3 linked regions of the Homo sapiens genome follow. The protein of the gene in region 1 interacts with the protein of each later gene in a biochemical or structural test. Each region holds a gene or a part of one and is shown in the gene's direction. Other genes may lie near its edges.

Evidence for each region.
Region 2: of the proteins of BCAN (region 1) and MMP1, one has a biochemical effect on the other in vitro, tested with the Homo sapiens proteins (one study listed by BioGRID).
Region 3: of the proteins of BCAN (region 1) and MMP8, one has a biochemical effect on the other in vitro, tested with the Homo sapiens proteins (one study listed by BioGRID).

Annotation. Positions count from the first base shown.
Region 1 is NC_000001.11:156,648,617-156,652,116, forward strand, and holds part of BCAN (brevican core protein isoform 1 precursor), read left to right. Parts: coding exon 1-245; intron 246-2,839; coding exon 2,840-3,073; intron 3,074-3,500. UniProt on the Homo sapiens protein: May play a role in the terminally differentiating and the adult nervous system during postnatal development. Could stabilize interactions between hyaluronan (HA) and brain proteoglycans.
Region 2 is NC_000011.10:102,789,313-102,792,418, reverse strand, and holds the end of MMP1 (interstitial collagenase isoform 1 preproprotein), read left to right. Parts: intron 1-923; coding exon 924-1,086; intron 1,087-1,612; coding exon 1,613-1,716; intron 1,717-1,897; coding exon 1,898-2,007; 3' UTR 2,008-2,500; downstream 2,501-3,106. UniProt on the Homo sapiens protein: Cleaves collagens of types I, II, and III at one site in the helical domain. Also cleaves collagens of types VII and X.
Region 3 is NC_000011.10:102,718,316-102,722,050, reverse strand, and holds part of MMP8 (neutrophil collagenase isoform 1 preproprotein), read left to right. Parts: intron 1-288; coding exon 289-437; intron 438-524; coding exon 525-650; intron 651-3,475; coding exon 3,476-3,637; intron 3,638-3,735. UniProt on the Homo sapiens protein: Can degrade fibrillar type I, II, and III collagens.

The DNA of each region.
Region 1 (3,500 bases):
ACGGGCGTACTGCCAGGAGCGGGGTGCAGAGATTGCCACCACGGGCCAACTGTATGCAGCCTGGGATGGTGGCCTGGACCACTGCAGCCCAGGGTGGCTAGCTGATGGCAGTGTGCGCTACCCCATCGTCACACCCAGCCAGCGCTGTGGTGGGGGCTTGCCTGGTGTCAAGACTCTCTTCCTCTTCCCCAACCAGACTGGCTTCCCCAATAAGCACAGCCGCTTCAACGTCTACTGCTTCCGAGGTGAGCCCACCTCCCTGCAGAAGCTGAGACCAATCTCAGAAAGGCAGAGTTGAGTCCTAAAAGTCCTACCCCAGTCTGATCAGTTTAGCTCAGGGCTTTGCCATTTGCCTGAAGTGGTCGTGGGTGAAGTCCAGCTTGTCATCTAGGGTTCTAATTCTGGGCATGCCCTCTGGTGTGGTGTCTGTCAGCTGTTTGGCCCAAGGAGTAGTCACCTTTTGGCCTCTCCTTATCTGCCTTCCCACCAGTAGTCCATGCCTTGTTTGCTCCAGCTGGGCTGCTGAATAAGCTCCCATCTCCTGTCAGCTTATTGGCAGAGCAAAGACGACCAACATTCTGTGAATTCAATGAGTAATCTGCCCAAGTTCTTCCAGTCAACAACCAAATGCCCTCAGGAGCCCTCTGGAGGATTTCCAGAAACTACAGCTTAAGAAGGTGTCAGATCTTTAACTACCAAATACTGGTGGATGGATACAATTCCCCCAAAAGGGAGCAAGACCTTAAGTACAGTTGGGAATAGAGATAGCTTTCTGCCCACATCTTATGGCTTGTTTCTTTTTTTGAGACAGGGTCTCACTCCGTCCCCCAGGCTGGAGTGCAGTGGTGTGATCATGGTTCATTGTAGCCTCAACCTCCCTGGGCTCAGGGGATCCTTCCACTTCAACCTCCGGAGTAGGTGGGACCACAGGCTTATGCCACCATGTCTAGCAAATTTTTGTAATTTTTGTAGAGATGGGGTTTCACCACATGCCCAGGCTGGTCTTGAACTCCTGAGCTCAAGCAATCTACCTATCTTGGACTCCCGAAGTGCTGGGATTTATAGGTGTGAGCCACTGCACCCAAACCTGCCCATATCTTATGTTGGGAGCTGGAGCGGGAGGCAGTTTCTGGGACTCTCAGATGCAAAAGGCCCAGGCCAAGGGTGACCGACAATAAGAGAGGCATTGCCATGCGGTGTCTCGGTCCTTCCCCAGTTTTAAGCCTGAAATACTGTTACAAGAGCTGGAAGCAGAAATGGAAGGAGCAGACACAGCCTTGAACCTCAGGGAGCACTTGGTCTGAAGGATGAAGACACAGCTTTTGCCATGGGAACCCCCAGCAAAGGGAAGACAAGATGCCTCACTCCCAGGATGAGGAGAGACTGAGAGAAAAGCATTACTTCCATTTGGACAGATCTGTGGACATATTTGGCTGGGGTTGGGGAGGGGTGGGGAAGTAAAAGTCCATAGGAAGACAGGTCCATCTGAAAAGACCTCCTGGAACAGGGGTAGTAGTAGTAGTAGTAGTAGTAGTAATAATAATAATAGTAATAGCTAAAACTTCTGTGTGCTGGCTATGATTGTGTGCCAAGCCAAGCACTGTTTTGGAAAGAAATGGCCTGGATCATGAGGAGGGGCAGGGGAGGGGGAATATGACTACAGTTGGGACTACGATTGGTGGAGGACACAGGCAGCAAGGACACAAGGTCTGGTGAGGAGTAAGGCTCACTGGAGCAGGTGATGAGGGCAGGGACTCACTGTCCTGTCTTGCCTGGCTGAGCACAGACAGCCCTCAGGACTTTTCTTAGCCCAATTCCACCTTCACTTCATTGGTTTTCTGCTCTTGGCTCCCTTCCCCAGAGGACAAGTAAACCATTCTAAACTTCTGGTTATTTGAAAGGAGTAGGTCCCAGAAGGAGGTGGCCTTTTCCCTTGCCTACTTGCCCCACCACTGAGATCCTCAGGTGATGCCTGAAGTTATTCCTGCACTCTGCCCTCCAGCTATCCTGAGGGGATGACAGCCTCTCCCCTTCTATTTCAAGAATTTTGGAGGCTCGGTGCAGTGGCTCATGCCTGTAATCCCAGCACTTTGGGAGGCCAAGACCACTTGAGGCCAGGAGTTCGAGATCAGCCTGGCAAACACGGGGAAACCCTGTCTCTACTAAAAATACAAAAATTAGCCAGTTACGGTGGCACATGCCTGTAGTCCCAGCTACTTGGGAGGCTGAGACGGGAGAACCGCTTGAATCCAGGAGGCGAAGGTTGCAATGAGCTGGGATCGTGCCACTGCACTCCAGCCTGGGTGACAGAAGGAGACTCTGTCTAAAAAATAAAAGAATTTGGGGATACCTGGGACACCTCACACCTTGCCCCAAGCCCAAGATCACAAGGTGGTAAAGCTATTTCATCCATCCTGCTGGCTCCAGCCCCTCCCCCTAGGGAATATCTCTCACCTGAGCCTTTCCTGACCACTCCAAAGTAGTATTTTCCATCACTCCATCTTCTAACTCTGCTCAAGTGTTCTTTATCTTGTAAGATTATAATATATGTTTGTTTGTCATCTGTTCTAGAATATAATTTCCCTTGAGGGTAGGAGGTTTGCTATTTTGTTCTGCACTGTATCCTCAGTGCCCAGGGGAATGCTTGGCATGACACACTGTAGGCACTTGATGAATGCTTGAGAAATGAGTGACGAAGTTCTGGGATGCTCCCTGGGCCCCAGTAGGTGCTCCACAGGGAAGATGTGAGAGAATTGAGAGAATTCCATGGTGCAAGCTGTGACCTGGGAGGGCAGAGCTACCTATTCAGGCTCGCATCAATACTTTCCTCCTGCCACAGACTCGGCCCAGCCTTCTGCCATCCCTGAGGCCTCCAACCCAGCCTCCAACCCAGCCTCTGATGGACTAGAGGCTATCGTCACAGTGACAGAGACCCTGGAGGAACTGCAGCTGCCTCAGGAAGCCACAGAGAGTGAATCCCGTGGGGCCATCTACTCCATCCCCATCATGGAGGACGGAGGAGGTGGAAGCTCCACTCCAGAAGACCCAGCAGAGGCCCCTAGGACGCTCCTAGGTAAGTCGGATCCCTTATCCTAAGGATGTCTTGATTGAAAGAAGTTGGGGGCAGAAGAGGCAAGCCCAGGTTGATGCTAGGGTGATGGATGACATGACTCTGCCCTGTCCTTTCTCAGTAGCTCAGGGGTGCAGGGCACCTTTCCTGTCCCTCTCCCAACCTTTGCTTTTCCAGTAAATTCCACCCCCAACTCTATGGAGCTAGAGATGCTTGCACTAAGGAGCTGCGCCCTGGAAAGGTGGAACCTGCCTTCTTTGGTCCCTCTTCCGCCTCACACACCCAAAACAGACTAGAGTTTTGACAGAGTAGGAGGGAGACAAATGACCATGTTCTCCGGGGCTAATGATGGCTCACAGAGCCTTCTCAAGTGTTGCCTCAACAATATGGCTGGGGTCAAGTTCTTCCAGTGTGGCGCAAGGACCACCTG
Region 2 (3,106 bases), on another chromosome or scaffold:
ACAAAAGGCAAATGACTGGAGATAGAACGTTCTGGCCTTTTTAATGAATCTAGATTTACAAAAATATTTTCTGCACAAACTATGTATTTAAAACCCCCTCCATATTCCTGGGAGTACTCAAAGTAAAACTCGAGACACTATGCCACGCACCAATATTTTTGCAAACGTGTGTTTAACGTAGTACAATGAGTAAGACATTTGACTCAGCCATACACTCAAGGCAAAGAATTAAATGCAGGTCAGATGGGCCAAACGCTTTGAAACAGGATTTTTAGCCTTTAAATTATGAAATTAAATGGATGTTAGAGACAGAAAGTTTCAAATTCCTTTTTCATGAGGGGTAAATAGCACGTGTGTACAGTAACAGAAATCTTGGCTTTAGTATATGAGACCAGCTTTATGTGATGAGGGGCTTACTGAGTATAAACACGGAATCTGGACACAGCATTAATTCAAGTATTTGGAACTATCTTCTAGTCAAATGCAGTGATTTGAATCCAGGATTGCAAACCCTTACAGGTTATGAGTCACTACAGCACTTCACCCTTTATGATACAAATGGTTTGAACTTCCACAGTCCATGAGCAAACCTGGAGAACCGAAGTTTATATCACCAAGGTGGCATAACTAACTCTTTAGTCATTTGAACATCTGACTGTGGAAAGAAGCCCCCAACTCCATAAACAAGTCATTCTCAAAGCTTGCTGCAGATTAGAATCAACTAAGAAGCTTCCAAAGATAGACACATTTAATTGGTCTGGGATAGGGTCCTGGCATCAGTATTTTCAAAAATCTCCCTAGATGATTCTAATCTGCAGCCAGGGTACTGCACTAGCATGTGAAACTAAGAACTTAGCTGAAAATTCACTTACTGCCTATTGAAGTCTTAGGCAAGTGTTTTATCACTCTTTCTTGATTGGCAGGGAATAAGTACTGGGCTGTTCAGGGACAGAATGTGCTACACGGATACCCCAAGGACATCTACAGCTCCTTTGGCTTCCCTAGAACTGTGAAGCATATCGATGCTGCTCTTTCTGAGGAAAACACTGGAAAAACCTACTTCTTTGTTGCTAACAAATACTGGAGGTAAGTTTAAGTGCAGAGAATGTTAGGGCCTCAGTTCTTTCTACATAAAAAGTTCTAGAATAGCCCATTTCAAAGTGAGTCTCAAACTGCCTTGGCCGGCATCCTTTCCTTCAGATGGCTGGTGCCAATCTATCATCTATTTAGTCTATTGACCAATAATCATCACACAATGCCTGCACTGGGAATCCAGAGAATGTAGGGGGATGAATTTTAAAAGGATGTAGAATTGAGGACATTCATCTTAACGGAGCTACTTTGGCCAAAAGTTACTTATCTTCCATAGTATGTTACCTCGATAGGACATAGCGTAGAACCTACTGGAGAATTCGATGCTGGATTTCAGAGGGGCCTTAAAGGCCTTTTAGTTCACCCAACATTCCACCTTATCCCATCCACTCCCCATTTCACAAATGATCTATAAAATGAAATATTCTGGTTAAATTCCTCATTGTGTATTTTCTGTAATGATTTTCAGAGTGCACATGTTTAGCAAAAGGTCTGACACTCTTAACTCTTTTCTGACCAGGTATGATGAATATAAACGATCTATGGATCCAGGTTATCCCAAAATGATAGCACATGACTTTCCTGGAATTGGCCACAAAGTTGATGCAGTTTTCATGAAAGATGGTAAGTGAATATACATGTATTTCCTCCATTTCATTGCCGTAGCAATAACATCATTATTGTTAGTTGGAACAGCAAATGCCAAAAATATCTGTGCTCACAGATGAATTGGTTTCTCAAGAATTCAAGTTAAACCTAGAAACTACTTGTATAATGTAGTAAGTCTCTTTTGTTTTGTTTCTAGGATTTTTCTATTTCTTTCATGGAACAAGACAATACAAATTTGATCCTAAAACGAAGAGAATTTTGACTCTCCAGAAAGCTAATAGCTGGTTCAACTGCAGGAAAAATTGAACATTACTAATTTGAATGGAAAACACATGGTGTGAGTCCAAAGAAGGTGTTTTCCTGAAGAACTGTCTATTTTCTCAGTCATTTTTAACCTCTAGAGTCACTGATACACAGAATATAATCTTATTTATACCTCAGTTTGCATATTTTTTTACTATTTAGAATGTAGCCCTTTTTGTACTGATATAATTTAGTTCCACAAATGGTGGGTACAAAAAGTCAAGTTTGTGGCTTATGGATTCATATAGGCCAGAGTTGCAAAGATCTTTTCCAGAGTATGCAACTCTGACGTTGATCCCAGAGAGCAGCTTCAGTGACAAACATATCCTTTCAAGACAGAAAGAGACAGGAGACATGAGTCTTTGCCGGAGGAAAAGCAGCTCAAGAACACATGTGCAGTCACTGGTGTCACCCTGGATAGGCAAGGGATAACTCTTCTAACACAAAATAAGTGTTTTATGTTTGGAATAAAGTCAACCTTGTTTCTACTGTTTTATACACTTTCTATATTTATTATTGTTACTTTCTGATGACAACGCCACCCTTACAGAGACTGCTTTTCAAATTTGAAATGGGAAGTAGACAATATAAAAAATGTTCATGTGGGAAATGAGGATATACAAAAAACTCAACTATTCTCTATTCACATGGAATTTATACCATATAAACTGGGGTGGGGGAGGGGAATCCATTTCCCTTGCCCCATTTATGGATTCCAAAAGTGGTTTTAGGTAAAATCAGTGACATCATGGTAGAGCGTTCTAGGTGTATGTCATTTTGTCTCTTCTGAACATATGGGAGGGTTCCATTTTCCCACAGTCCAACTCCTTGCAGAGTTGGGTGGTGGGCAGTGGGGCATCTGACTACTTCTAGCCAGAGGGTTGAGTGAAGAAGTGACAAATATCATTTTCAGACTGGAACATTTAATTGCTGGTGGAAATTTCTCTAGTAGTCTACTCCTTCTGTCCTGTGGTAGAAGTACATCATGAGAGAGTTGCCACAAGACAGAACAAGCTGAATTGCTGGAGGTAAATGCTCCAAATAGTTACACAAACCTCAGTAGACTTTGCTTAAGCAGGAAATCAAATTTTAGGCTGGCCAT
Region 3 (3,735 bases), on another chromosome or scaffold:
AAGTAATGAACTAAATGCTTTATATGTATTTAATCCCCACGGCAGCCCTATGAGAGGGATACTATATTAGTATCCTCATTTTATGAATAGGAAACTGAGGTTTAAAGACATGTATTAACTTGTTCAGAACCCACATCTGTCCTCCACCCTGAGACCTGCACTCCCTCCTTATCCTCTCCAGTGGTAGCACACCATGATGCAACTCACTTCAAAACAGAACAACTCATCAGTTGATGGACTACTGTTCTAAATAACATTTAACTCTTCATACATCCTCTCATTTTGAAGGATTCGAAACTATACCCCACAGCTGTCAGAGGCTGAGGTAGAAAGAGCTATCAAGGATGCCTTTGAACTCTGGAGTGTTGCATCACCTCTCATCTTCACCAGGATCTCACAGGGAGAGGCAGATATCAACATTGCTTTTTACCAAAGAGGTAGGTACAAAGCAGTCATGCTCAGTTTTGCTTTCTTTGGCTAACCTGAAACTTGGCAAGGATCTAATACAAATGTTCTTATTTCAGATCACGGTGACAATTCTCCATTTGATGGACCCAATGGAATCCTTGCTCATGCCTTTCAGCCAGGCCAAGGTATTGGAGGAGATGCTCATTTTGATGCCGAAGAAACATGGACCAACACCTCCGCAAGTAAGTTAATCAAGATTATGTCCACACACAGCTTCTGAATTAACCTTTTACAGATTAGAATACACACACACACACACACACAATAAAGGTAACATAATATTTCAAACTCACAAAAAGTGATCATTTGAAATTTTTGCTACCTCATGATACTAAGTCAATTTGGGATTTTTTTAAAAAAAGAAAGAAAAAGACATGCTGAATCTGATTACTGACCTTACTTCTTAGGTCAGAGATCAGAAAATACAGACTACGGCCAAATCCTGCCTGACCCCTGTCTGTATAAATAAAGTTTTATTGAAACAGGGCCACATTTATTTGTTTCTATATCATAAATGGCTGCTTTCACTCTACAATGGCAAGCTGAGTAATTGCAACATGGATCATTTGGCTTACAAAGCCTAAAATATTTGCTATCTGGTTCTTTACAGATACTGCTTTAGAATATCTTTATTTTAATATTCCCAAATTTAGTGATGTTTGAAAAGAGCCTATTTTTCCATTTTTGGAAATTCATTTAGAAATTATAATTTCTATAATTAGAAATTAGCCTATTTTTCCATTTTTTGGAAATTCATTTAGAAATTATAATTTCTATAATTAGAAATTAGTCTATTGAGAAAAGAACAGACACCTTCCCTCTCATCTAGTTAGTTCATCTCCTTGGAGCTCTTCTTCAGTGGTATGCTTCTGTACAGCAAGCCACTCCTTTCAGGAGAAGGCTCCTATTAAGAAGGACTGGGCTGCTTGAAGGGAAGAAATGAGGCTGAGGACAGGTATACCCAGACCATGTGGTACTTCACAAAATATGGGGTAACAATATGCCAGAGAGCACTTTTAGAAAATAATCAGAAAGGCACCTTTTACCTTTGCTTGGCACCTGTTCCTCCTGCCATTTTCTCAACATGGGTATGTTACGAGGGTCTATTCTACCTAAGTCCATATGCTAGGAGCTGTGTGTAGCCAAAGATAGGTAATAACCCTCAGCTCCTCTCCATTCCCTGTTGCCCTCCTCACTAGTTCGGATGATCATTACCTCTTACCTGAACGAATGATCTAGATTCCTAACTGGACTCTCCATCTCCAGTATGTGCTCCCTCTAATTTTTCCTACCATTGCAGCAGGGTTTGTTTTTGGAAGCCCATCTTGGATCACATCACTCTCATGCTTAAAAGTTTCAATGTTTACACATTCTGCACCAAATAAGGTCCAAATACTTCCACTTGGTATTGAAGGCTCTTGGTGCTTGTTCATCCTTGTCTTTCTTGGCTTGTCTTCTTATTTCACGTATTCCATTCACATCGGGCTAACACCCACATTGTACATTCACTGTTTCTAGGTCACACCCTATGCTTTTCATCTTCCTCACATTTGCTTGAATTGCTTCCTCTCCCTGAAATACTCTTCCCATGCCCCACGCACCACCTTTTAAAATCTCTCTCATCTTGCCATGCTATGTATGTCAAAGGCCACCTTCTGTCTTGCCTTGTCCTGGAAATGAGAACTTCCTCTGCAGAATTCTGACAGCTTTTGTATCTCCTTCTCTGTCATCACTCACTGTGTGCTTTCAAGTTGTTTGCACACATCTCTCCTCTTCTAGACTATGCACTCCCTGTAGAGCAGAGAACCACAACAAATTGCCCACAGTTCCTTTCACGGTATTCCAAGCATTCAAAGATATTTTTCTGAAATGCACTCATGAATGCATAATTAAAAGGATGTGATGATAAGAAACAATTCTTAGAGCATGGGTAGAATTTTAGCAGGCTAATTATCAACAGGAAGTTGAACATTGCAGTAAGAGCATGGATCTTGCCATTATACCTGGGTTTGACCCCAATCTGTCACTTACTAGTTGAGGGACCAAGTACCAGCTATTCAAAATCTATGGGCATCAGTCACTTTACTATAAAAATATTGTTAATAAAACTTCAGAAAAATGTTATGAGGATTGCATAACATTAGATTGCCTAGTATGTTGTAGGTACTCTACAATTATGGCTTTTTTTAAAAGTAGGCATATACAAAAATGCATCAGTGTGTTTGTGAGGCAGCATGTAGACTGGCTGGACTGAAGGATTCATGTTAAAAGGCAAGCACTCAAATATCTGCTGGAGCCAAGTGGAGGAGGTCTTGAAGGCCAGGCAAAAGAGGTTGGGCTTTATTTGATAGGAAGTGAGATCCTGGGAAGGTTTTAAGTCTCCAGTTGTGAACGGCACTATGCTCATGGAAGTTAAAACATGGAGAAAGAGAGCAATAAGGGTAGGATTTGTCTCTCTCCAGTAGAGAATTCCTAGAGCATCTTAGAAAGCTCAGAAACAGAGAAGAGCTGGTGCTAAGCTGTGGGTGATGAGGGAGCCAACATGAGCCAGCCCTCCATCTGAGGCTGCTCCACTGCTGGGCTGGCTTCTCTTCTAACTACTTGCTCACAGGGACTCTACTCGTGAGGCTGAGTGTCTGGGACAGTGGAGATGGTGATTGTGGGAATGCAAGAGAAGAGGGGTTCCCAAAGTCATGACGGCTCTGCCATTACTTCTCCAAGTCTCAGATGCACATTTGTAAAATGTGAGAATTGGAATAAATGCAGCTTTTCTGGGTTCTAAGAGTTTATAAGAAGTTCATACTCACCTAGTCGCCATCTATGACCACTATCTTGATTCTTCTCAATGTCCACTTTCTCAGGTATCTGAAAGAAAGATGAAAAAGACAGCCATGGGAAGGGCTATTTCCCTGAGCAGTTTTGACTTGGAGGTTGCATTCCTTGAGATCATGTTTCTGCCACCCTGGGATCCACACTGAGCTGTTTACCACCCGTGTTTGCATTTCAGATTACAACTTGTTTCTTGTTGCTGCTCATGAATTTGGCCATTCTTTGGGGCTCGCTCACTCCTCTGACCCTGGTGCCTTGATGTATCCCAACTATGCTTTCAGGGAAACCAGCAACTACTCACTCCCTCAAGATGACATCGATGGCATTCAGGCCATCTATGGTAAGGTCTTCTCAAGAGAGTCATAGTACATGGTAGGACCTGGGAATAGGCGAACACTCCCAGAATCTGAATATCTCTTCCTTTGCACTTCTGCAGTT